Homo sapiens: one gene and its partners. The protein of the gene in region 1 interacts with the protein of each later gene in a pairwise test. Each region holds a gene or a part of one and is shown in the gene's direction. Other genes may lie near its edges.

Region 1 (3,063 bases):
AGCCAGTTTCCTCAGGTGCAAACCAGTGAGGTAATTCCTACCTTGCAGAGTGAAGTGAGAAAAGACAGTGTTAAGAAATGCCGGGTGCGGTGGCTCACGCCTGTAATCCCAGCACTTTGGGAGGCCAAGACGGGCGGATCATGAGGTCAGGAGATCGAGACCACCCTGGCTAACACGGTGAAACCCCGTCTCCACTAAAAATACAAAAAATTAGCCGGGCGTAGTGGCGAGCACCTGTAGTCCCAGCTCCTCGGGAGGGTGAGGCAGGAGAATGGCGTGAACCCGGGAGGCAGAGCTTGCAGTGAGCCCAGATTGCGCCACTGCACTCCAGCCTGGGCAACAGAGCGAGACTCCGTCTCAAAAAAAAAAAAAAAAAAAAAAAGACACAAGACCTGTGGTAGCCTTTCCTTTCTGTCTGGCAGCAGCCACTGGGTAAACCAAGATGGTGCATACAAGTACATCCAGAAGCTATGGAAGAAGCAGTCTGATGTCATGAGCTTTCTTCTGAGGGTCCGCTGCTGGCAGTACCACCAGCTCTCTGCTCTCCACAGGGATCCCCGCCCCACCCAGCCCAATAAAGCACGCTACTGGGCTACAGCCAAGCAAGGTTATGTTACATATAAGCGCCACGGTGGCTGAAAATCTAGTTCCTAAGAAGGCAACTTAACAGCAAGCCTGTCTATCATGGTGTTAACCAGCTAGTTTGCTTAAAGCCTTCAGTCTGTTACAGAAGAGCAAGCTGGATGCCACTGTGGGGCTCTGAGTCCTGAATTCTCACTGGGCTGGTTAAAGATTCCACATACAAAGTTTTTGAGGCTATCCTAGTTGATCCATTCCATAACACTATCAGAAGGAAACCTGACACCCAGTGGTCCACAACAAGCATAGGGAGATGCGTAGGCTATCTGCAGGCCAAGAGAGCCACGGCCTTGGAAAGGGCTGTAAGTTCTACCACACTATTGGTGGTTCTCGCCATGCAGCTTGGAGAAGGTGCAATACTCTCCAGCTCCACAGCTACCGCTAATGTTTGTAAAATTCATACCTAATAAACACTAGATCAAAAAAAAAAAATCACAGACCTGTGGTAGGCTGGGCACCAGTGCTCTAAAGCAAGTTCTGCCTAAACTGGCAGGGACATTTTTCACATCAGGAACAGGAGTTGTTCCTGGACTCTGTCTGGGGCCAGGCTGGGAGAGACGTGGGGCAGAGTGGGGCAGGGGCAGGGGCAGGGCTGGGGGCTGGGGCCTGGGCAGGGCCAGGCACTCAAGTGAGGCCAAGTCCTGGAGCGAACCAGTTCCTGGTGGCCGTTGGACAGCTCACACAGCTCCCTGCCAGGTCACCCGCCATGGTCCTCCCTCTGCCCTGGCTCTCTCGGTACCATTTCCTTCGCCTCCTTCTGCCCTCCTGGTCCTTGGCACCCCAGGGCTCCCATGGGTGCTGCTCCCAAAACCCCAAAGCAAGCATGGAAGAGCAGACCAGCTCCAGAGGAAATGGGAAGATGACGTCCCCTCCCAGGGTAAGTGGCACCACAGGTAGGAACAGAGGGTGTGAGAATTTACACTGGGGTGTGGGAAAAAAAAACCCTCAATCCCACCCTGCACCACCCCACACCATGCCTACCCCTGCAGCTCTTTTCTTAGTTCAGCTACCAACTCCTCTCCCCACCTCCCCCAGCCCAGACCTCAGGGTTCCCTTCCCTCACCCCACCCCCACCCACAACAGCACAGTCCACAAAGTCCTTGAACAGGATCTATTCCCCCTCACCTAACAGTTAATTATTTCTTAGCGGGGAGGAGCAGCTGATCCTCTTTCCAGTGACCCCATATCCTTGTTCAAGGAAGCCAGTTACAGCCCCTGGGCCAGGGAACTCTATTTGCTCCCCCTACTACCACCCAGAGGCCTATGCCCAAGACAGGAAGCTACCTGGCCTTCTCAGTACAGGTGTCCTTAAACGACCGGTTCAAAAACGAATAGGGAAGGTGGAATTTCTCACTTCCAGCCACAGCCTGCAACAAAGCTTCCCAGGGCCTCAGCCCCCTGCCCTGGCTGATGCTCCCTCCCTTAATTCCCTGACCAGGGCCCTGGGACCCACCGCACAGCTGAGCTGGCCCGAGCTGAAGAGTTGTTGGAGCAGCAGCTGGAGCTGTACCAGGCCCTCCTTGAAGGGCAGGAGGGAGCCTGGGAGGCCCAAGCCCTGGTGCTCAAGATCCAGAAGCTGAAGGAACAGATGAGGAGGCACCAAGAGAGCCTTGGAGGAGGCGCCTAAGTTTCCCCCAGTGCCCACAGCACCCTCCGGCGCTGAAAATACACGCACCACCCACCAGGAGCCTTGGGATCATAAACACCCCAGCGTCTTCCCAGGCCAGAGAAAGTGGAAGAGACCACAAAGCGCAGGCAATTGGCAGGCAGTGGGGGAGCCAGGGCTCTGCAGTCTTAGTCCCATTCCCCTTTGATCTCACAGCAGGCAGGGCACCCAGGCCTTATAGGAATTCACCCTGGACCATGCCCTAAAATAACCTCACCCCAAATACAATAAAGGGACGAAGCACTTATAGATACCACAGACACATGTGTTTCATTTTTAGTTTTGTTAAAAAAAAATTCTGACAAATCAGAAATGGGGGTTCAGGAGTGGTGGTGATGCAAAAGATGGAAGCCATGGGGTGGGGGCTGTCAGGGGTGGGGGCAGTAGTGTCTCCTTCACCCCCACCCTGGTGTCCTCTCCTGAAGGACAGACGGTCACATTCCAAAATGGGCGAGTCTTCTACCGTGTCTGTTCAACTGAGAAGAAAACGTAGCATGGTCAGAATAAGGCATGAAAAGGGGAAAGTGAGGCAGGAACACACGGCACACATGCAGACACTGGTGTACTGCCTGGGTTCAGAGGACGGACGTGGGGGTGAGGGAAGGGATGTAATATGATGAGAGAAGACAAGACACCCCACATAAAGGTCAGAAAAACATCCCAACACAGCATCAAAGACCAGGGGGCATGAACCAGTCAAGTGTCCATTATGCATCAGATGCCCATGACCTATGTGATGGGATTTCGGACAAACACAC
Region 2 (3,720 bases), on another chromosome or scaffold:
GGAAAATTAAACTGCTTTAAGATGTTTTTGGATCCTGTATACATTTTGCAAACTAGAAATCTCTATTTTAAAAGGTGAAAAACTTAAGATAGAAAAATGCAAATATTAAATATTAGAAATATCATATCCTTGATTTTTAAATCCTGAAAAATTTTCAATCAAATTCTTTGGTTTAAGATTCTTTTGGCTTGATTCCCAAACTAATTTAACTGCAGCTTTATCTACCATCTCTACTAACACCACATATATTATAGCTCATAGTATTTTATGTTGTAGATTTATTTTTTATCTCCCCTCCACCCTTTTTTTCATAAAGAACTAACTCTTGGACAGATACGAAGCAGTACTATGAGCAATCCAGATCACTTTCCTCAACTGTTACTGCCAAAAGACCAAGTTTCAGGCAAAGCAGTGTGTCTGATAGAAGAGATTTCCAGTACTGAAATCCAGGTGGAGATGAAGATGCCAGCCTATGAACTAAAAATTGTGCATGATCACAGTGAGAAACCTCTGAAAATTGAGTTGAAAGTTGAATTACCTGGTATTAATTCTGTCTCTCTCTGTGACCTTAGTGTTTCTGAGGTAAGTTGAATAGATAACACTGTAAATTTGTATTGGCCAGCATTCACTAACATATATTATGCCACAGTAACAAACTACATAATTTCAGGGGCTTACAATGATTTGCTCAGGTTACCCGGTGAAGGAGCAATTCCCTTCTGAGATGTGCCATTCACATCTCAGCAAAGGGAAAATAGAATGATCAAACCATGCAGTGGATCGTAATACTTCTACTCAGACATGACACTTCATGATATCACTTCTACTCACGCTCCACTGGCCAAAGTAAGTCACAAGGCCAGTTCTACATCAGTAGGACTGAGAAGTGTATTCTCACAGTCACAGGAAGTCATATGGCAGGGTAAACGTACTATCCTCTTACAGAAGAGCAAATAGTTAGAGTCAGTCCTACAGTCTACCAGTCTACACTCTTGGTTGCAAATATTTGCTTCTTTCTGGAAGGAAAACACCTCCAATCCCAGTATCAGACTCCAAAGGACAGAATTTTGCTTTCTCTTCCTCTTGAACCATGGACTAAGACATGTAAAAAAAGTTATGTACTCCCTCAGTCCCATCTGTCATGCAATGTGGAATGGGGAGAAGATAACCGTAATTAACCATCTCAATTCAGAAATGGGAAAAATAAGAGGCACACTGCAGTTACTGGTGCACAGCAATTCTGAAATCCTAGTAGGCAGACATTGTGAGGGCTCCTTTTCTGGAGGTAGAGGATGTTCTTACTTAGGTTCCTTGAGAAAGTTCTGTAATTACCTAGCTCCCCAGTTCCATTTTTTTCCACGACCTTTAGCTTCAGTCTTCAGGAAGATGTTTTCTTTTTTTTTCCCTTTCCCACTATCCACCTTGGCCACATCTGAAGAGTATCGGAGAATGTGCCATTCTTATATGCTAAGTAGCCTCTTCAGCCTGGTTCCTGCTCATGGAATCTTGGGGCTCAAAGGATTGTTTTAAATTTTGAAGGCAGTTTCTTTTAGTCCAGGCTGGTAGCATTTTGATTCCAGTCAGTGATACCCATAATTCCTTTTTAGACATTGCCCATATTTCAAGACTTACCTGTCTCTTTAGACTTAATTGCTGTCATTTTAGCCAAATGTAAGGATTTACTGAAGTCCACCTTAGTACAGTCAGAGGTTTTGGCTGGGTACGGTGACTCATGCCTGTAATCCTAGGATTTTGGGAGGCCGAAGGGGGGTGGATTGCCTGAGCTCAGGGGTTCGAGACCAGCCTGGGCAACATGGTGAAACCCTATCTCTACTAAAATACAAAAAAAACATCAGCCGGGCGTGGTGGTGGGCACCTGTAGTCCCAGCTATTCAGGAGGCTGAGGCAGGAGAACTGCTTGAACCCGGGAGGCGGAAGTTGCAGTGAGCCAAGATCGAGCCACTGCACTCCAGCCTGGGCAACAGAGCGAGACTCTGTCTCCCCTCAAAAAAAAAAAAACAAAAAAAAAAAAAAACAAAAAAAATTCAGAGGTTTTAACAAAGAGCATAAAGATTTAATCTTTGCCTCTATATTGCCTTAATCAGCTTGGTTGATAAAAGTAATTTCTCAATTTTATCCCTTACTTGCTGAAAATAAAAATTAGTTCCACTTTTCAGTCATTGAGTCTTGGAATCTTGGGGCTCTATAAAGTCCTTTTTATTTATTTATTTATTTTGAGACAGTCTCACTCTATTGCCCAGGCTGGAGTGCAGTGGCACCATCTCAGCTTACTGCAACCTCTGCCTCCCAGGTTAAAGCGATTCTCCTGCCTCAGCCTCCTGAGTAGCTGGGATTACAGGCATGTGCCACCAAGCCTGGCTAATTTTTGTATTTTTAGTAGAGACGGGGTTTTGCCATGTTGCCCATGTTGGTCTCGAACTCCTGGCCTCAAGTGATCCACCTGCCCTCAGCCTCCCAAAGTGCTGGGATTACAGGTGTGAGCCACCGCACTCAGCCAATTCCCTTTTAATTTGACTTGCAAAATGGTCCATTCTAAGCTCATCTTTCTTGTAATATCCTGTTAAATGTAGTGAACAGAACCAACACATTACCATCTATTTTCCCACTTCTTCACCTAAAGCCACAAATCAACTAGGCACAGAGTATTTATCATCCAAATTACTGTGATAGTTTCACTAAAGGCTTCATCATTATGAAACATGGATCACTACCTTTCCAGGCTCCAATAAGTTTCCTTGCTGTTTGCTGGTCAGCCACATAATTTAGGATGGCAACACTCTACTGTGGTACTGTATCAGTTAACGTGTGATGTAGTGAGCAGCAGTAACCACCTTAAAATCTAAGGGATTTACAACAGTAATTTTTTGCTCATTCCAAGTCACATGGCAACAAATGGGATCTTTTTATGGCAAAGGAGTGAATAACTGGGAACAATAAGTTAGTATCCCAAATTTTAAGCAGGAAATAAATCTCTTGGTTTATTATTCTTAGGATGATTTATTGATTGAAGTATCTGAGAAGTACAGATTACATCTGAATCTTCCAAAACTTATTGATACTGAAATGACCACAGCAAAATTTATCAAAGAAAAATCCACGCTAATCATCACAATGCCTTTGGTGTGAAAGAAGAGCATCATATGTTTTGGGTTTTCAGTGCTAAAGTCATGTGAATTAAAGGACCTTCATTTTGGCTAAAGAGGTAGTAGTTTATCTTAAACACCAATTCCATTATTTTCTAAGTTCATTTTGACTGAGATTTTCTCTTCACCTGTTATGTCAAATATATATATATATATATATATATATATTTTTTTTTTTTTTTTTTTTTTTTGAGACGGAGTTTCGCTCTTGTTGCCCAGGCTGGAGTGCAGTGGCACGATCTCAGCTCACTGCAACCTCCGCCTCATGGGCTCAAGCGATTCTGCCTCAGCCTCCCGAGTAGCTGGGATTACAGGCATGCACCACCACGCCCAGCTATTTTTTTGTATTTTTAGTAGAGACGGGGTTTCACCATGTTGACTAGGCTGGTCTTGGACTCCTGACCTCAGGTGATCCACCTGCCTCGGCCTCCCAAAGTGCTGGGATTACAGGCATGAGACACCATGCCTGGCCATGTCTTATATTTTTTAACTCACTTCTTCTCAAATAAACATCAACCAGAATTAAAAACTATTGCTATGACACACTTGTTTTAAA
Region 3 (3,500 bases), on another chromosome or scaffold:
TGACCCTTTGTTTTACTGCCCTAGGTGACAACATGTACAGCTGTGAGCGGTGTAAGAAGTAAGTGAGCCTTCCCCCGCCTTCTCCCTAACTGCCGTTTCTGTGCCCTACATATTCCCCTTGGGTTCCTGCAGAGAGCCCCCTATAATCCTGCCTTCCCAGAAGGGAGCCGGGTGGAGGGCTGCTTCCCTGGCCCCTGGCCCTGATGCCGGACACTGATGCTGGCTCGTGCTTCCTCCCCAGGCTGCGGAACGGAGTGAAGTACTGCAAAGTCCTGCGGTTGCCCGAGGTGAGCCAGTGGCCTCGGCAGCCTCCTCCTCAGCTATCTCGGGATGCACACCAGCACACACCAGGCAGGGGCTGAGCCTGCTCCACTGCTCGGGCACTTCTGTGCTGCAGGGGCCGTGGAGACTCCATAGCTTTGGCTGAGAAACCTCTGGGAAGGGTTGGCAGGGGGCACATTTTTCCAACTGTGACTTGGTGCCCTCTCTCGGTAGCCTCAGCACATGTTGTCTAACATGTTGTATGAGGGCCCAATGGGAGGCAGGTGTGTGGGACACTGGGTTACCACCCCCAGTGAGACAGCTATGGCTCCTGCCAGCTGCAGAGTGGCGGGAGGAGAGCTGGTCCAGCTGGGGCTGTTGCCAGGGGTCTTTCTGAGGAGTAACGTCTGAGTGGGGCCTGGAGGGTGTAGGCTGGTGTCAGCGTCGTGGATGGAAGGCACAGAAGGAACAGACAAAACCCCAGTGCAGGAGCAGGCTTGTCCGCACCAAGGAAGGCACGTGTGGCTGGAGCAAAGAGGAGAGGGCCCTGGCAGAGGGGGCCCAGGTTGGGGCTGTGGTGGCTCGGGGAGGCTTTGTGGCTTCTCAAAGGTAGTGCCGACAGAACTGGTAAACTTGATGGCTCATTGCAGCTCTTGGGGTCCAGTTCTCAGCAGTGGAGCTGGGAGTGATCTGTGTGACTTAGAGCGAGCCCAGTCTGGCCCCCACGTGGAACTCTTGGATTTGTTCCAATGGAGTCAGCTTGCATGATCCCATCAGCTGTCCTGGGCCCGTGGGCAAGGCTGCGAGGGCCCGCATCATTTCTTCCTAGATGACCGGCGCTCTCTCTGTCCCCGCAGATCCTGTGCATTCACCTAAAGCGCTTTCGGCACGAGGTGATGTACTCATTCAAGATCAACAGCCACGTCTCCTTCCCCCTCGAGGGGCTCGACCTGCGCCCCTTCCTTGCCAAGGAGTGCACATCCCAGATCACCACCTACGACCTCCTCTCGGTCATCTGCCACCACGGCACGGCAGGCAGTGAGTCATGTCCCCTCCCCTGCCGTCCCCATCCGCTAGGATCCCTGTGACCCGTCTGCTCTGCCGCCGCAGGTGGGCACTACATCGCCTACTGCCAGAACGTGATCAATGGGCAGTGGTACGAGTTTGATGACCAGTACGTCACAGAAGTCCACGAGACGGTGGTGCAGAACGCCGAGGGCTACGTACTCTTCTACAGGTGGGCGCTGGGCCAGGCCTGGTGGAGGAACCTCACCATCCCCGTCCCCTGGGACCCATGGGCCTTCTGGGTGTGTGTAGGGGACAGCGCCTGGATTAAGCCAGGGAAGTAAGGACTTGGATTGTTAAGAAACAGCCCTCTGGCTGCTGTGGGGAACCCAGGAAGGCAGCTTGGAGCCTTCTCCAGGGCCCTGGCTGGCGGCACAGGGGGCTGCTCACATGTCCAGGACCCGTGAAGGACCCAGGAGGTGGTGGACAGGGCCGGTAGCCCGAGGTGCACTGGGATGGGGGCTCTGCATGTGTCTGAAGGTGGCAGCCGTCAGGCACAGCTTCTCGCCCCCTCCTCACCCCACAGGAAGAGCAGCGAGGAGGCCATGCGGGAGCGACAGCAGGTGGTGTCCCTGGCCGCCATGCGGGAGCCCAGCCTGCTGCGGTTCTACGTGTCCCGCGAGTGGCTCAACAAGTTCAACACCTTCGCGGAGCCAGGCCCCATCACCAACCAGACCTTCCTCTGCTCCCACGGAGGTGAGGCGCCCCCTGTGGTGGGAGAGCAGGGTGGGCAGCTGGGCCGAGCCACAGCTTCGCTCCCTGTACCTTCTTCCCAGGCATCCCGCCCCACAAATACCACTACATCGACGACCTGGTGGTCATCCTGCCCCAGAACGTCTGGGAGCACCTGTACAACAGGTGAGAGCCTGGGAGGCCAACTTGTCTCCGTCCTGTCCAGGGCCCAGCTGGGCAGGAAAAGAGGGGAGGGCAGGGAAGGAATGCCACCAGGACCCCACACCACACTCTGGCCTCCACGTGGGCAGCACAGAGCCGCCTTCACTTGTCTCATGGAGAATGACACATGTCGTTTGTGGGAATCCGCTTGGATCCTTCCAGCGGCAAGGGACAGGAAACTGGCTGAAGCACAGCTGAGTGTGTTGGCCATCTGCTGAAGCACAGCTGAGTGTGTTGGCCATCTGCTCTTCAGCCTTGAAGCAGGACCTCCCTTGGGCTGTGGGCGCGCTGCTCCGTTGCAGGCTCTGTGGTGCTCACACAGAGGTGCATGCAGGCCTGCGACAGCGCTGAGGGGGCACTGATGGCTTGAGGGGGAAGTGGAAGGCAGTGATCACTCTCCCCTCCCTGGTACCCCGCTCAGGCCGTGTCTCTCTCTCCCACCCTGGGCACAGATTCGGGGGTGGCCCCGCCGTGAACCACCTGTACGTGTGCTCCATCTGCCAGGTGGAGATCGAGGCACTGGCCAAGCGCAGGAGGATCGAGATCGACACCTTCATCAAGGTGCGTGCGGCGAGGCGGCGCGGGGGCGGCTCTGCCAGCCTCTGCCTGGGGCAGCTGGGGACTTGGGGACAGAAGAATCCTGTGCAGTCCCTGAGCAAGTTTGAAAGCAGTCTTTTGAGGCTGGGCATGGTGGCTCACACCTGTAATCCCAGCACTTTGGGAGGCTGAGACGAACAGATCACTTGAGGTCAGGAGTTTGAAACCAGCCTGGCCAACATGGCAAAACCCCGTCTCTACTAAAAATACAAAAATTAGCTGGGCTTGGTGGCAGGTGCCTGTAATCCCAGCTACTTGGGAGGCTGAGGCAGGATAATCGCTTGAACCTGGGAGGCGGAGGTTTCAGTGAGCTGAGATTGTGCCACTGCGCTCCAGCCTGGGCAACCGAGTAAGACTCCATCTCAAAAAAAAAAAAAAAAGAAAAAGAAAAGAAAGGAGTCTTCTGCGGGGAACTAGATGGCCAGGTGTCTAGGAGGGCTTTTCCTGGTGGGAGGGTTGGCTTGAGTAAGTGAAGCCTCATCGCCCGGGTGCTGTTGAGCTTAAAGAACCAGTAGATGGATCCCATTCTCAGCCTTGGCTGTGTTATTTTGGGCTGAATTATTCTTTATTGTGGGGCCGTCCTGTGCATTGTAGGATGTTTAGCAGCATTCTTGGCCTCTACCCACTAGTGCTAGTGACAACCAAAATGACCTCCAGAGATTGCCCAGGGTCCCCTGGGGTGC
Region 4 (4,010 bases), on another chromosome or scaffold:
TGCTTGGGAGGCTGAGGAACAAGAATGGCTTGAACCCGGGAGGCAGAGGTGGCAGTGAGCTGAGATCGCGCCACTGCACTCCAGCCTGTGCGAGAGTGAGACTCTGTCTCAAAAAAAAAAAAGGGAATTTAAGAAATTTAAAAGAAAACTCTTGTTATATAAAAAGGGTATTGGGTCTGACAGATAAGAGCTCCTGCACTCTACCAGCCAGCTACTGACAGACATAGGTCTGGCTCCAGTGGAGGGGCAGCAGCCAGTGAGCCCAGCCTGGGGTGGCCCACTCCTGCTGCCTCCAGGATGTCCCCTGTTTCCCCAGCCCCTCTGCTGTGCCCTCGGCCCCAGAAGCTGGCGAGACTGCTTCTCTGGAACAGCATCACGCAGGCCTGCCCATCGGCCCACTGTGCACCAGGCCTTCTGGGGATACAGATGTCAACCAGGTGGGGTGCTCAGGAGGGGCACAGAAGCCAGGAATGACAAACACATCAGCCACCAGGCAAATGGGAAATGTGCCCCAGAAGCTCCCTGCTGAGGATGTTAGGGAGAGCATTCTGAAGTAGTGTGGTTGAGATGAGGCTTGAGGAAGGCAAGGCTCCAAACAGCAGGGCAGACTGGGAGCAAGGTAGACTGCATGGGAGGGCAGCTGATGGAGCTCCTTAACCCTCTGGAATTGCCCCAAAGCCAAGCAAAGTGTTCTTCTTGGGGTCACAGCTAGCTCAGGGATGCCTTCTGCCCCTTGGTCAGAGGGGCAAAAGGTCAGAGCCTAGGGTCACCAAAACCTCTGGGAAGCCCCGGGGGTCTCAGGCCACAGACCATCCTCAGAACTACACACTGCCCTCCCATGCCTGGCGGGGGCCCTGGACTGGCCCTCACCAGCTGTCTTCTTGCACTGGCCAGGGTTCTGGCTGGACTGGCAAGGAGGGGTGGTCAGATACAGGAGTAACTGGATCCCTTCATCAGGACCTAGGGTGGTGAGAGCTTTGAGCCTGCTCTGCTCCAGGCAGACATTGTGTCTGGCCCTGCCAGGATGGATAGACAGCAGGATGTTACACGTTGAGGACATGAAGGTCATCAGGAATGTGGCTGGAATCTGTTAGGCCTCCCCCAGCCCAGGCGGGGGCTGCCAAGTTTGGGCCTATCCTCTGTTCCTCTCCTTATTTGGACCTTCAGGTGATAAGGCTGAGACATAAAGGAGGCTGGGCCCTGCCACCACGACAGCAGCCACACCTCTGCAGAGAGAATGGTGAGTGCCTGCTGGGGAAGAAAGGCTAGCGGTCTCCCAGGTGCTGGCCTTTGGGCTGGGGGAGCAGAGTTTTCTGTGCTTGTGTTGGGTTGAGGGTGGTCCCCAGGGAGAGGAAGAGGATCCTGGCCCTGGCTCTCCTGGGAATGCTCTGGGACTGTGCATGATGGGTGGGGTGGGGAGACTCTGAGGAGTTGGGGAGAGGACCCCTCCCTACTCACAGTGTTGCAGGCCAGCAGGAAGGCGGGGACCCGGGGCAAGGTGGCAGCCACCAAGCAGGCCCAACGTGGTTCTTCCAACGTCTTTTCCATGTTTGAACAAGCCCAGATACAGGAGTTCAAAGAAGTGAGTGCCCACTCCCAGTAGCCTCAGATCCCATCCTGGCCCCCCCACCCCACCCCACATACATACCCCCCTTCTACCCTGACCTTGCCTCTCACACCACCCAGGTCTCTCCCCCACCTCCCACCTTCCCTAGAGCTGGGGGCTGCTCCCACCTGAAGGCCCCCATCCCACAGGCCTTCAGCTGTATCGACCAGAATCGTGATGGCATCATCTGCAAGGCAGACCTGAGGGAGACCTACTCCCAGCTGGGTGCGTGCACCCACCTCCCACCCTGCGCACTGGGGTCCCTACTCTGAGCTGCTGGGCGGGTGGGAGTGGCTGGGGGGACAGGACTCTGCTCCCCTGCTTCCCCTCCTCCCCGTCTCCTCACACTGCCCTTCCCCCCTTGTCACGCCTTGCTTCCACTTCACCTTCCCGACCCACAGCTGCCTCTGCCCCTCCAGCCCCTGTGGCCAGGATGGAGGGAGGGCGGCCTGGGCCTTCTGGGGGACACCCAGGGTCCCTGTGTGCACCTCATGCCCCACCCCCACCAGGGAAGGTGAGTGTCCCAGAGGAGGAGCTGGACGCCATGCTGCAAGAGGGCAAGGGCCCCATCAACTTCACCGTCTTCCTCACGCTCTTTGGGGAGAAGCTCAATGGTGAGCCTGGGACAGAGCTGGGCACCCTTGGCCAGGCAGGGAGCCTGCACCCTGCCTGAACCCCACCTGAACCCTGCCTGAACCCCACCTGAACCTTACATGAACCCCACCTGAACCCTAACTGAACCCCACCTGGACCCACCTGGACTCTTCCTGGCCATGACCCATTCCAAGCACATCCTCTGCCCCAGAATCCCATGTGCACTGGTCACCCCAGTGCTGACTTGGAGCCAGGAAATGTGCCTTCAGCCCCCACCCCCAAATTCCAGTCTCCCAGCCAAGCTGCCCGCCTCAGGAGGATGACCATTCCCAGCCCCACTGATCCCCGAGAAACATTTTATGTTAGGGAATACCCCCACCTCTTCTGGGATGTGGGAGGCTCCTCATGCAGCCCAGTTCCTCCTGCGGGGGACCTGGGATGCTGGAGACATGGATGCTCACCTGGCTGCCTCGGCCTTCCAGGGACAGACCCCGAGGAAGCCATCCTGAGTGCCTTCCGCATGTTTGACCCCAGCGGCAAAGGGGTGGTGAACAAGGATGAGTAAGTATGGGCCCAGCCAGATGAGGAGCACCGTGGTGGAAGCAGAGAGCGGGGTGAGGCCCCTAGTGAGGGGGGCTGCCTGTGCTTCGGGGCCTTACACTGCTCTTTGGGGTGCAGCCAACCCTTCCCTGCGCCATGGGAGCCTCCGTACCCACCTTCCCTGTGCAGTCACTCCCCCGCAGTCTCCTGCTCAGACCCTCCTCACCCCCCAGGTTCAAGCAGCTTCTCCTGACCCAGGCAGACAAGTTCTCTCCAGCTGAGGTGAGGCTGCCCAGCCCCTTCAATACTCATCCCCAGCACCTTCTCTGGGCCTTCACCCATGACCCAGAGCCCAGTACCAGTGAGGCAGTTGCTGGAAGGGTGAGCCGAGGGCCCTTCTGGAGGAGGTGCCATCTCTGTTGAGACCTAGAGGGTAAAGATGTGGAGTCAGAAAAGAGGGCAGGGTGCGCCAGGCAGGGAGACTGTGCACAGACCTGGGGGGAAGTGGATAGGGAGAGGTTTCGTACACTCGGGGTGGGCCTGTGCCTGTGGCTGGAGGGGCGTCCTTTGCCTCTTGGCCCACATTTGCACTGACTCCTCACTCTGCCCAGAGTCAGCCAAGAGAAAAACATTAACCCAGAGTCTGGGGTCTAGGGTTGAAAAGCTAAGGCAAAAAGCACAGATGCAGGGGGCAGACAGAAAGGCCACAGGACTCAGGTGAGGTCTCTGCCGGGCTGGGCCAGGAGCCAGGGGACTGCCACTCACCAGTGTCCCCTGCAGGTGGAGCAGATGTTCGCCCTGACACCCATGGACCTGGCGGGGAACATCGACTACAAGTCACTGTGCTACATCATCACCCATGGAGACGAGAAAGAGGAATGAGGGGCAGGGCCAGGCCCACGGGGGGGCACCTCAATAAACTCTGTTGCAAAATTGGAATTGCTGTGGTGTCTTGTCTGTGACAGATGGGTTGGGGACCAGCCAAGGGGGATCCCAGGGTCTCAGTGCGCACATCACCATGATCATGGCCACCATCTACCTCCTGGGAGCTGGCCCCTCGCCAGCTCACCTTGATTCACTCCCATGATGCCAAGTGAAGTGTGAACTATGATCATGCCTAGTTTACAGATGAGGACACTGAGGCCCAGAAAGTGTGAGCATCTTACCAAGGCCAGCCCTCTAGAAGAGGAGATGGTGGGATTTACACCACCTCCACCAAGCCCAGGAATGAGCCACAAAGTGGGCACTGCCCAGCTACTTGGGGCTGTGC

What was found. Proteins that work in one complex are often made in the same cells at the same time.
Region 2: the proteins of MCCD1 (region 1) and PIH1D2 interact in binary tests that used the Homo sapiens proteins (3 or more experiments, as listed by UniProt).
Region 3: the proteins of MCCD1 (region 1) and USP20 interact in binary tests that used the Homo sapiens proteins (3 or more experiments, as listed by UniProt).
Region 4: the proteins of MCCD1 (region 1) and MYL7 interact in binary tests that used the Homo sapiens proteins (3 or more experiments, as listed by UniProt).

Annotation. Positions count from the first base shown.
Region 1 is NC_000006.12:31,527,670-31,530,732, forward strand, and holds MCCD1 (mitochondrial coiled-coil domain protein 1 precursor), read left to right. Parts: upstream 1-1,292; 5' UTR 1,293-1,345; coding exon 1,346-1,516; intron 1,517-2,077; coding exon 2,078-2,266; 3' UTR 2,267-2,563; downstream 2,564-3,063. Other genes in the region: spliceosome RNA helicase DDX39B, read right to left, coding at 2,765-2,781.
Region 2 is NC_000011.10:112,067,298-112,071,017, reverse strand, and holds the end of PIH1D2 (PIH1 domain-containing protein 2), read left to right. Parts: intron 1-316; coding exon 317-582; coding exon of another isoform or gene 583-591; intron 592-3,012; coding exon 3,013-3,147; 3' UTR 3,148-3,220; downstream 3,221-3,720.
Region 3 is NC_000009.12:129,873,458-129,876,957, forward strand, and holds part of USP20 (ubiquitin carboxyl-terminal hydrolase 20), read left to right. Parts: intron 1-24; coding exon 25-58; intron 59-241; coding exon 242-287; intron 288-1,118; coding exon 1,119-1,299; intron 1,300-1,371; coding exon 1,372-1,498; intron 1,499-1,852; coding exon 1,853-2,022; intron 2,023-2,102; coding exon 2,103-2,184; intron 2,185-2,672; coding exon 2,673-2,781; intron 2,782-3,500.
Region 4 is NC_000007.14:44,138,533-44,142,542, reverse strand, and holds MYL7 (myosin regulatory light chain 2, atrial isoform), read left to right. Parts: upstream 1-1,210; 5' UTR 1,211-1,237; coding exon 1,238-1,240; intron 1,241-1,468; coding exon 1,469-1,582; intron 1,583-1,686; coding exon of another isoform or gene 1,687-1,755; coding exon 1,756-1,831; intron 1,832-2,115; coding exon 2,116-2,220; intron 2,221-2,682; coding exon 2,683-2,761; intron 2,762-2,973; coding exon 2,974-3,022; coding exon of another isoform or gene 3,023-3,121; intron 3,122-3,520; coding exon 3,521-3,622; 3' UTR 3,623-3,679; downstream 3,680-4,010.